Linked DNA regions of Homo sapiens. The protein of the gene in region 2 purifies or fractionates together with the protein of the main gene of each other region. This does not show direct contact. Each region holds a gene or a part of one and is shown on either strand. Other genes may lie near its edges.

Region 1 (3,500 bases), on a different chromosome or scaffold from region 2:
TGATCACGGTTCACTTTATTCTACGGCTTGAATTACAAGCATTATTTTTTATAACAGGAAAAACTAAAGTTTTTCTTTTTTTTTTTGAGATGGAGTCTCACTCTTGCCAGGCTGGAGTGCAGTGTGGTGCGATCTCGGCTCACTGCAACCTCCGCCTCCTGGATTCAAGTGATTCTCCTGCCTCAGCCTCTCCTCTTGCGTATCTGGGACTATAGGCACACGCCACTGTGCCCAGCTAATTTTAGTAGAGACAGGGTTTCACCATGTTAGCCAGGATGGTCTCCATCTCCTGACCTCGTGATCTGCCCGCCTCGGCTTCCCAAAGTGCTGGGATTACAGGCGTGAGGCACCGCACCCGGCCACAACTAAAGATTTTTTAAAGGCTGTTACAACACTAGACCCTCTAAGGCTATCAGTGCTTCCCCCCAAACCACCATTTCGAGGGGGCATTCATATATATATATATATATATTTTTTTTTAGACAGGGTCTTGCTCTGTCACCCAGGCTGGAGTATAGTATCATGATCACAGCTCACTGCAGCCTCAACCTCCCAGGCTCAAGCAATCCTCCTACCTCAGCCTCCAGAGTAGCTGGGATGACGCCTTGCTAATTTTTTTTAATTTTTTTGTTTTGTTTTTGAGACAGTCCCACTCTTTTCCAGGCTGGAGTGCAGGGGCACAATCATGGCTCACTGCAGCCTCGACCTCCCAAGCTCAAGCGATCCTCCCACCTTTGCCCCCCGAGTAGCTGGAACTAAGGTGTGCACCACCACACCCAGCTAATTTTATTTTATTTTTTGTAGAGAAGGGGTCTCCCTATGTCGCCCAGGCTGGTCTCAAACTCCTGGGCTTGAGTGATCCTCCCACGTAGGCCTCCCAAAGTGTGGGATTACAGCCATGAGCCACTGCACCCAGCTTCTATATTTGTTTTTTTCTTTTTCTTTTTTTTTTTTGAGACAGAGTTTCACTTGTCACCCAGGCTGGAATGCAATGGCATGATCTTGGCTCACTGTAACTTCCGCCTCCTGGGTTCAAGCAATTCTGCTGCCTCAGCCTCCTGAGTCTGGGACTACAGGTGCACGCCACCACGCCTGGCTAATTTTTGTATTTTTAGTAGAGACAGGGTTTCACCATGTTGGCCAGGCTGGTCTCGAACTCCTGACCTCAGGTGATCCGCCCACCTCAGCCTCCCAAAGTGCTGGGATTACAGGTGTGAGCCACCACACCTGGCCCCAGCCTCTATATTTGATATAAAGTATACCGATTTCTGGGAGTAATAAGAGAATTGCTAGGAAATTGAGGGTTTCCCTTGCCTTCTGGAACTGAGGACGGATCCCACCATGGCCCCTTCCCCTGCCAATGGGCACAAGCAGGAAGCCCTGAGCAGCCCAGGCATCCGTTTTCTGCATGTGGCCACAGATCCTCATGGCCAATCTGCTATGGAGAGGAAGAACCTGCTTGTTTGCTCCAGGGATGACTCAAACAGTGAGAAGCAGCCGGTCCTGAGGACTGCTGGGCTCAGAGGCACTGCACCCCACTCAGGGTGAAGGGCACCTGTTTGTTTGTGGCTCCTGCTCACGTGAGGCTTGTCTGCCGGGGGTGACCCCAACTCCTGATGGAAAACTCTTCTGATCTCCAGTCTGAGAGCTGGGGGGTCAGGAACATCCAGAAGGGGCCTATTCTGCACATGACTTGATATCAAAAAGCTAAGAAGTTTAATGACTTTTTGGGGGTTGAGTCAGTGTCCCTGGAGTAAAAGTAGCTGCAAAACTGGTGCCTGAAGCTATCCTGGGGCTGCAGTCAGCCCAGCCCCCTGGAGCCCCGGGGCCTCCCCACTGAGGTCCAGTCCAGAACTCCACCTTCGCCTCAGCTCCTCCGCTTCTTCCTTGGCTCTGGCTAAAAATGCCCTGTCCAGAGCCTCGCCCAGCCCAGCAGCACAAGACTGCCCTCTCCTTCACCCCTGCTCTGGCCCCTCACCTCTTCCCCAGGGAGGCAGGCAAGCCCAGTGGCTCCACCATCTGCCAGCAATGGGACCTGATGGGGGACATGCTAACCTCTTTGCGCTTCAGTTTCCCCATCTTGAAAATGAGGACCACAACAGTGCCTCCTCACGGGATGGATCCGGAGGTTCCTCAACGTGGTTCATGCACAGCGGTGGGCAGGTGCCGGGCTCCCAGATCATGCTCAGCACATGGCAGACCCCAGACTCCACACCTGCCCCTTCTCCCCACGGGCCTCACGACCTGCCTTTGCCCCTTCACAGCCTGTTGTGGACATCTCTCCATGTCCACAGGCATGCCTCAGGCCCAGCATTGGGTATACTGCAGGCCCTGGGGACGGGCTATTTCTCCCTCTAGTCCAAAGTCCCTCAGTGTGTGGATCCCAGCGTCTGTAGGGTGGACTGAGGGAAGGCTATGGGACAGGGAGCTGGGAGGGCCCCTCCACTGCTACGTGGAGGTCTCCTGTTCTCCCAATTTGGTGGCCCATTTTTCCCATCTGTAAAATGGGCTCACTGATCCCTAAGCCTGCTCCTTGGGAGGAAACCTTACCGACCAGCAGAGGCTAGAACCAGCCCTCAGGAGTCATCCTGAAATGTAAGCAAATGACTGTCCCCACCAGAGCCCACACATACGGCTGGAGCCCTGCCTGGAAGAGGCTGGAGCTGTGCTTGTACCTGGCTGGATCCTGGCTGCATCCAGCAGTTCCTGGACTCTCCGGAGGATCTCGTGCTGCAGGCCAGCTTCTGAGACGCCCACCTGTGACAGTTCAAGGAAGTGCAGACTGTGGCCTGGGCGGGAGCCCGCTAAATGGTGTGAGCCACGTGGCACAGGCCCAGGCTCACAGGACCGTCGACACCTCCTGCTGGAAATGTGGAAGCCTTCCGGGGCCTGGCGGGGCCCACGGTCAGGATGAGGCAGTGCGGCACCATAGCTGTGAGGGCAACCTCCCCAGGCCTCAGCCCAACAATCAGTGTGGCAGGGGTTGGGGGGAAACTGAGGCCCAAAGGGAAACCAGCACTAGCAACAGCTATGGTTTAGCAACTGCTTCCCGGTGCCAGGCTTCACCTGCACACCTCAGCCACTTCCCCACCAGGTGGGGGAGGAGAGAAGCCTTGGAGGCCAAGCCACTAAGCAGCAGCAGCACACGAGCCCCACAGTCCCTCAGCCTCCAGAGCCTGAGCGGCATGGCCTTGTGACCCTCAGTGCCATCCAGTCCTCTTGGACCCTGGTGTCTGCATCTGTCCAGGGAGGGGCAGGAGAGTCTCATGAAAAAGAACACGAACTCTGGGGCCACACTGCTTGGGGTGGAGACCTCACTCTGCTGTGTGACCTTGGGCCAAGTTATTGCCTTACTGGGTCTCAACTGAAAGATGATGATAATGATATGTACCCTGCTGGGCTGTCGGGAGAATTCAGTGAGTTCGAATACAAAAAGTGCTTAAAATGGTGCCCCGCACGTGCAGGTGCTACAAAGTTAGCTGGCACAGCGATGAGTATTC
Region 2 (3,550 bases):
ACTCCCAGTGGGACTCTGGAAATATGAAGGAACTAGGGAGTGGAAGAGATTTCAGAGCTGGGGAGAGGAGTTCCTCCCTTCAAAGCCAGCAACTGCCTTTGGGGAATGTCGGGGGGTATCTCCTTTCTCCTGCTTGTGTGAGGTGGTACACAGTCCCCCCTTCACCTGGCGGGAAGCCTGTCCCGGACAGACTCATCTCAGCTTTCCCTTGGGGCAGGATCGGGGGCAGCAGCTCCAGCAGAAACAGCAGGATCTGGAGCAGGAAGGCCTCGAGGCCACACAGGGGCTGCTGGCCGGCGAGTGGGCCCCACCCCTCTGGGAGCTGGGCAGCCTCTTCCAGGCCTTCGTGAAGAGGGAGAGCCAGGCTTATGCGTAAGCTTCATAGCTTCTGCTGGCCTGGGGTGGACCCAGGACCCCTGGGGCCTGGGTGCCCTGAGTGGTGGTAAAGTGGAGCAATCCCTTCACGCTCCTTGGCCATGTTCTGAGCGGCCAGCTTGGCCTTTGCCTTAATAAATGTGCTTTATTTTCTCTTCAGTGAACTTTATCCCAGGACCAGTGGGGGTGGGAGAGCCAAGTGAGGCCCAAAGGCAGCTGTGGGCTGGCTGCGGGGCCTGTGGTTGTGTACTCATTCCTATGAGTGGGTGAGTGATGGGGACTGGGCAGGAGGACAGGGAGGGGACAGGAGCTGGCTGCTGTTGGGGATGACTAGGACCACAGCTCCTTGGTCCTTGGCTTGGACCGGGGAAGGGCACTCGCTAGGGGTGGCAGTGAGATGGCATGCCTCTTCCATGAGGTGGTGCCCGCTTCCTGCCCAAGTGGGAGCCAGGAAGCCAGCGGGGGCCTGAGGCATGCCTGCCCTGTGGGTAGCTCCCGAAAGATTCCAGACTCGCTCTTTAGAATCAGGTGGCTCACTGAGCTCTGTATTTTGTTTCCTGGAGCTTTCACTGGTTTCTTCCCCTGAGATACCCCAAGTGACATGAAAAGCATACTCAGGGCCTAGAGACACTTTACTGGGGATGGGCTTCTGTCACAGGTCAGAGGTCTGAGAAGAGGGGCAGGCCCCACTCCTCTCCACTAGTAGAGAAAGGTTGACAGAGAATCATTTCTTGCTTCTCTTGGCCGTAGTTTTGGTTGTGCTGGGGGCCTCAGCCACAGAGGCCTTGGGGGCTGTGGCTGCTCGTGCCCCCTTCCTTCCCCAGAAAGAGCTTTGGTGGCCCCTGGGAATCAGACTGCATGGTTTCTTGGTGGGAGAGGAGGCCTGGGGTGAGGAGACGGCCTCAGGGACTGTCTCCTCCCCTTGCGCAGGAGTGGCAGAAGGGCTGCTGTCCCCAGCCATGGGCACCCCAGGTAGCAGGGGCAGGTCGGTGAGGGTGGGCTGCATCTCCATCCTCAGCAGGTGCTCTGTCAGGGCCGTCTGTTGCCGGTGCTCCCTGTGCCTGCTCAGCTCCTGCTCCAGCTCCTTGAGGAAGCCTGGGAGGGGCCGGGGGTGGAGGGTACAGGGTGGGTGGAGCCCTGGGCTCAGCAGGAGGGTCCCTGGGCTCAGGGAAGTCTCTGGCTGGCCCCTTGTCCCTTGTGGGAAGGAGCCTGAGGCTGGGGCCCAGGACTGACACCTGGCTCTGGCCCAGATGTTGATCTGAACTTGGGGCTCCCCTCCCCGGACGCCACTGCCACCTTAGCTTCCCTCATGTCCCACAGGGCAGAGGTGGGCTCTGGGGAGGCTGAAAACCTTGGAAAGCAGGGTCACCTCGTTCTGAGCAGAATGGGCCACTCAGCTCTGGGAACTCCTCATCGCTTGAGGCTTCATCCTCCTCATCCGAAATCCAGCGCTCCACCACAGGCTGCCCGTCCAGGTCCAGGAGAAGTGGCAGGGCTTCTGTCACCAGCTCGCTGCAGAGCAGAAGGAGCAGAGGTTACCCAGGAGGGCACCCTGGCGTGGAGGATGCAAAGACACGCACCACAGCACTCACACCCGGAGGGGTGGTGGCTCATGAGCTAGGTAGGAGGTGGGGGAGAAGGTGTCATGGACAGGACCCCAGGTTTGCAGGCTGAGAGGGGTCTGGGCTGAGTTAGCAGGTAGAGCTCAGCCATGACCTTTCTTCCCACCCTCCACTCCTTACCGGTAGCCATCCTGGTTGGTGCAGCTGTTTCCAGACAGGTTGAGGATGAGAAGGCTCTGGGGGAACTCATCTGCACACAGCAAAGAGAGAGGAAATGGGGTTCTCACTTGATCTTAGCCAAAAGACCATGAAGCGATGGGAATGGGGTTCTCATACCCACTTTCTAGTCCAAAGCCAGTACCTCTAGGCACAACCCCTTGAACTCCCTGAGGATGAAATGTGGACCTGCAGGGGCATGGCTAATAGAAGCATGGGCAGATGGGTGCAGAGGGGAGGGCAGGCCCCACAGGGGATGTGTTTGGTGAGCCAGGGCGAGTGGGTTCCTACCCAGCTTCAATGTTTCTATCAGGTTCTCAGAAAGGTCCAGAAACTGGAGGCATGGGAGGTCGAGGAGGTTTTCCACCTGCCTGATTTGGTTTCCTGCCAGAGACAGGAAGCTGTAGGGGAAGGAAGGGGTACAGAGGCAGAGCTGAATCATGGAACAGCTGGAAGAAAAGAGGAGGGCACCTGACACCGGGGCCCCTGGGCTAGGCAGCTGATGACCAGTGGGGACACATGGCCTTCTGGGGTGAGGGAGTAGATCTAGGCTTGCTGGTCCTTGACTGACAAGGACCCAGGCTTGGAGAAATCTGAACCAGTTCTTTGGGATATGGCTAGGTTCCCCCAACCCCTCTTCCCCTGCCTGAGCCCTGGCACCACATACCGCAAGGAGGGGATGCAAGCCAGGTTCTCAATTTGCTGGATCTTATTCTGCAAGAAGAAACCGAAGTGGGGAAACCAAGCTGAGATCAGATGCGTCAGGGGCCCTTTACGGGGACAAAGCCCCAAGACCATGTCTACTCTGCAGCTGGAGATCTGGCACTTTGGGAATGATCACCCCACTCCTTGAACAGGTTGCCACTACCTTAAGAAAGATGATTTTCTTTCCCCATGTGGATGGTTAAGGGTGTAAACCTGGGGTATCTAAACCTGACTACGTATACTCTTCTGATTCCACAACCAAAGAGTGACCTGGGAATCAGAAAAGGAAACTAAGAAGCCACCAGGAAAACGGAAAGGGCCTTGGTGGTGGCTTGCATACACAGAGAGAACAATGAGCATACAGGAACTTGACGGTTAAAGTTTCTATGGGGAAAGTTGAAGCGAGCTGGGAATACTCAACCAGGGGAAGGCTGAAGATCAACCAACCACCACCACCACCACCAAACAGCCTTCAAGTAGGATCTGAATGATGTACAGGAATCTTCATAGTTTCCTCTTCTTCAAAACAGGAAATGGGCTGGAGCTATTTAACGTGAAAGATTTAGAGTAGATGCCAAAAAGAACTTCTAGATCAAGAGAAGTGCCTAAAGAACAGTGGAAGGAGCACAGGTCATGTTCAGGATCTATTTTGAGGGAATTAGTTTTTCAATTCAGGACCCTATGTCATTCGT
Region 3 (2,879 bases), on a different chromosome or scaffold from region 2:
ATCCTCAGATGCTGCAGTGGTTAGACTGGTGCCCACTGGGTGGGGGGAGGAGCCCAGAACAGCGTCATGATGTCACCTGTGCCAGTGACAGATGACATCCTGCCTCTGAAGGGAAACCCAGTCTCAGGAGAGCAACACCACGCCCAAAGGTCAAAGAGCGGAGAAGGGCGGGTAAGACGACCCTGGTCTGACCCTAAAGCCTGAGTTTGGAGGTCTCAGCACAACTCCAGAGTCCTCATCCCAGCGCTGTGTTCAGGTGGCGAGAACATGTCTTCCGTGGGCCCCATTTCCCTTGACTGTGGCCTCCCAGCCTCGGGCATCGGCCTCAGGTCACCCCACGGCCTGCACATGCTGTGTGGCTCACAAATATCCAGCTCATTTTTGGAGAAACTGGCTCTTCTGGTTGAGCCGCTGCTTGGGAACCAGGGCCAGAGCTTCCCGTTTCTGACCCCTCCACCACTACTCAAATGCCCGCAGCTAGCCTCACAGTGAACCCAGGCTGACTGGCGCCCACGGCTGCACCGGGCGACCCCTGGTCCTGCTAGGTGGCCTTCCTGGGGGACGAGCGGCTGTCCCCTGGCCCCATCACTCCTCATTCCTGAGGGTTCTCCAGATTCGCTTCCAGGAATGAAGCCTAGTCAGCCAGCCTCCCTCCTCCCCTGCTTGCCCTAATTTGATTTGATCTCCACTCTGGAGGCCTCAGCACTCCTCCATCTGAGCAGGCATCAGGTTTCTCCAGGCAGGCGGCCCCAGCAGCATCCAGGGGCCAAACACGTGCCCAGTGGTACCCAGTCCCCGATCTGAGGCGCTCTGCACAAATACACAGTGACAACCTAGAGAAACTTCAGTATGAAATACAAATAAAAACAAAGTGTAGCAGCGATGGCCTCAGACAGTAGATGGCAGGGACAAACTAAGGCTGGCTCTGGGCCAAAGACACGAGCCTCCTGGGGAGCCTGTGGGGCCCCCTCCCTCCTGTGAGGCTCTCGTCTGGGGTGTCTGCATTTCTGATTTACATTTCATACTTGTTTGGTGCCCTGTGAAATTGGCCTTTCTTCTTTCTGCTTCCAGCTGGTCCTGTGTGGAGGTGAAGGACAAGGGCTGCAGTGAGCCAAAAGTGAGGTGCACAGAGGTCTTGTTTTCCTGAGGCTGATAGAGGGTTCCCTCTAGACCCGGCTCCAAATAAGCAGGGCTCACAAGCCAAAATCCAGATTCTCACGGGTTAGGGTCTGGATTCCTGGGGAAACCAGCCCACAAACTGCTCCTGTGAGGCTGTGGGGCCAGCCCATTTCTCCATGCAAACAGGTGAGACTCCAGCCCCACCAGGGCCTTGGGAACCCGTCTCGTCTCAGAGCCCAATCTCAGGGAGCCAGAAGCCCCCAGGGGCTTTTCCTCCCTCTGGGAGGCAGGACAAAGAACTAGGGGCACCTAGAGGACGCTCCCACCCCACCAGGTGTGGTGCAGGAAGCAACAGAGGCCTGGAAAAGCATTCACTGCGTGAGAAACGGCGCCCAGGGCACTCGCAGCCTCGCTCACGGCCTGCTTCTTCAGGTGCTCTGGCGAGGCCAGGGCCACATCCTGCTCCCGCTCCCTCCTGTGACGTCTGAGCTCCCTGAAAATGGTTTTCTTTGGTTTCCTCCCCGTTCCCTGGCCTGGGGTCACAGGTTTGGACAGTCAGGGTGGTCAGTGGTCTGGTCACTGGAAGCACGGGGATGTGGCCTTGGCATCAGGAGGCCTGGCACGGACGCAGAGGCACCCGGGGCCCGGGGCTGGCTAATGGCCCAGCTGTGGGTTCTTCTGCAGCAGCCACTCCAGGGTCTCCAGGAGGTACGACATGCCGTAGTGCTGGGCAATGTTCCGGAATATTCCGATCTGTTCCATGAAGACCTGCAGGAATAAACAGGCACAGTGAGACCCCAGTCCACTCAGAGAGGAGGCCAAGGAGGCCAGGCTGAGCCGAGGCAGATGAGGGAGAGCCCACCTGGGTGTGGATGGTGAGGGCGAAGTCTCCCGCGCAGCTGCAGTACACAGGCATGCTGGTCTCCTTCACCCCGCGGCACTTCAGGCAGACCTGAAAGGGAGCAGCCCCGATGGGCGCCAGCCCTCCCGCGCTGGCCAGACCTGCCTGCTGCTTCTTCACAGGCTCGCGAGACACATTCGTGGGCCCATCAGTAAGCCTCGAGCCCCTGCTGTGTGCAGCCAGCCCTCGGTTATGAGTAAAATGCACGACCTCATCCCACGGTGCCAGCGCCTTCCCTACACCCACCCTCGCTGTGGATGTTCCACCCCAGATGCCCAGTCCTGAGGCCTCCTCCAGGCCCTGCTCACTCCCTCCATCCTGCAGGCCTGAACGCCGTGCACCACCACACGGCAGCTTGGCGCGTCCCCCAGCCTCTGCTCAGATGCCCCTCGGCAAGACCTTCCTGTGGCCGAGCTGTGCAACTCCCTCTTCCTCCTTTCCTTCTCTTCACACTTGGGAGTGTCTGCCTCCTTCCGCTAGAACGAAGCACCCACAAGGCCAGCTCTTGACCCAAGGCAGGTGCTCAACCAGTGTGGACAGAACAGTCCATCAGGCTCAGGGCATGGACTGGTCTGCAGGGCAGGCCCCTTGGAAGACACCAGGGCGTGCCTCAGGACCTGCACACACCCCGGCTCCCGGGAGTGCACAGAAACCCCCCTGTGGACTCCAGGGCACACGGGCAGGCGGCATGCACGACTCACCAGGTCCTGCAGGGTGAAGGCCATCAGCTTCTTCTGTAGAACTTCCACCAGCGTCATCTCGATGGCAGAGGAGTCGTAGGGCGCCTGACAGTTGGAGCAGAGCCACTGAGGCAGGACCGCCCCATCCTAGGCAGAGCAAGAGTGCGAGAGGTCACCAG

Evidence for each region.
Region 1: the proteins of LRRC46 (region 2) and LRSAM1 purify together in Homo sapiens (affinity purification with mass spectrometry; 4 studies listed by BioGRID and IntAct, with this or other methods). This does not show direct contact.
Region 3: the proteins of LRRC46 (region 2) and POLE purify together in Homo sapiens (affinity purification with mass spectrometry; 4 studies listed by BioGRID and IntAct, with this or other methods). This does not show direct contact.

The regions. Positions count from the first base shown.
Region 1 is NC_000009.12:127,496,510-127,500,009, reverse strand, and holds part of LRSAM1 (E3 ubiquitin-protein ligase LRSAM1), read right to left. Parts: intron 2,758-3,500; coding exon 2,676-2,757; intron 1-2,675.
Region 2 is NC_000017.11:47,834,670-47,838,219, reverse strand, and holds the end of LRRC46 (leucine-rich repeat-containing protein 46), read right to left. Parts: intron 2,868-3,550; coding exon 2,821-2,867; intron 2,555-2,820; coding exon 2,445-2,554; intron 2,188-2,444; coding exon 2,118-2,187; intron 1,888-2,117; coding exon 1,745-1,887; intron 1,471-1,744; coding exon 1,100-1,470; 3' UTR 501-1,099; downstream 1-500. Other genes in the region: SCRN2 (secernin-2), read left to right, coding at 218-376. UniProt on the Homo sapiens protein: Required for normal spermatogenesis and male fertility. Plays an important role in sperm flagellum biogenesis.
Region 3 is NC_000012.12:132,622,924-132,625,802, forward strand, and holds the end of POLE (DNA polymerase epsilon catalytic subunit A), read right to left. Parts: intron 2,848-2,879; coding exon 2,722-2,847; intron 2,497-2,721; coding exon of another isoform or gene 2,257-2,496; exon of another isoform or gene 2,093-2,256; intron 2,072-2,092; coding exon 1,982-2,071; intron 1,888-1,981; coding exon 1,774-1,887; 3' UTR 839-1,773; downstream 1-838. UniProt on the Homo sapiens protein: Catalytic component of the DNA polymerase epsilon complex. Participates in chromosomal DNA replication.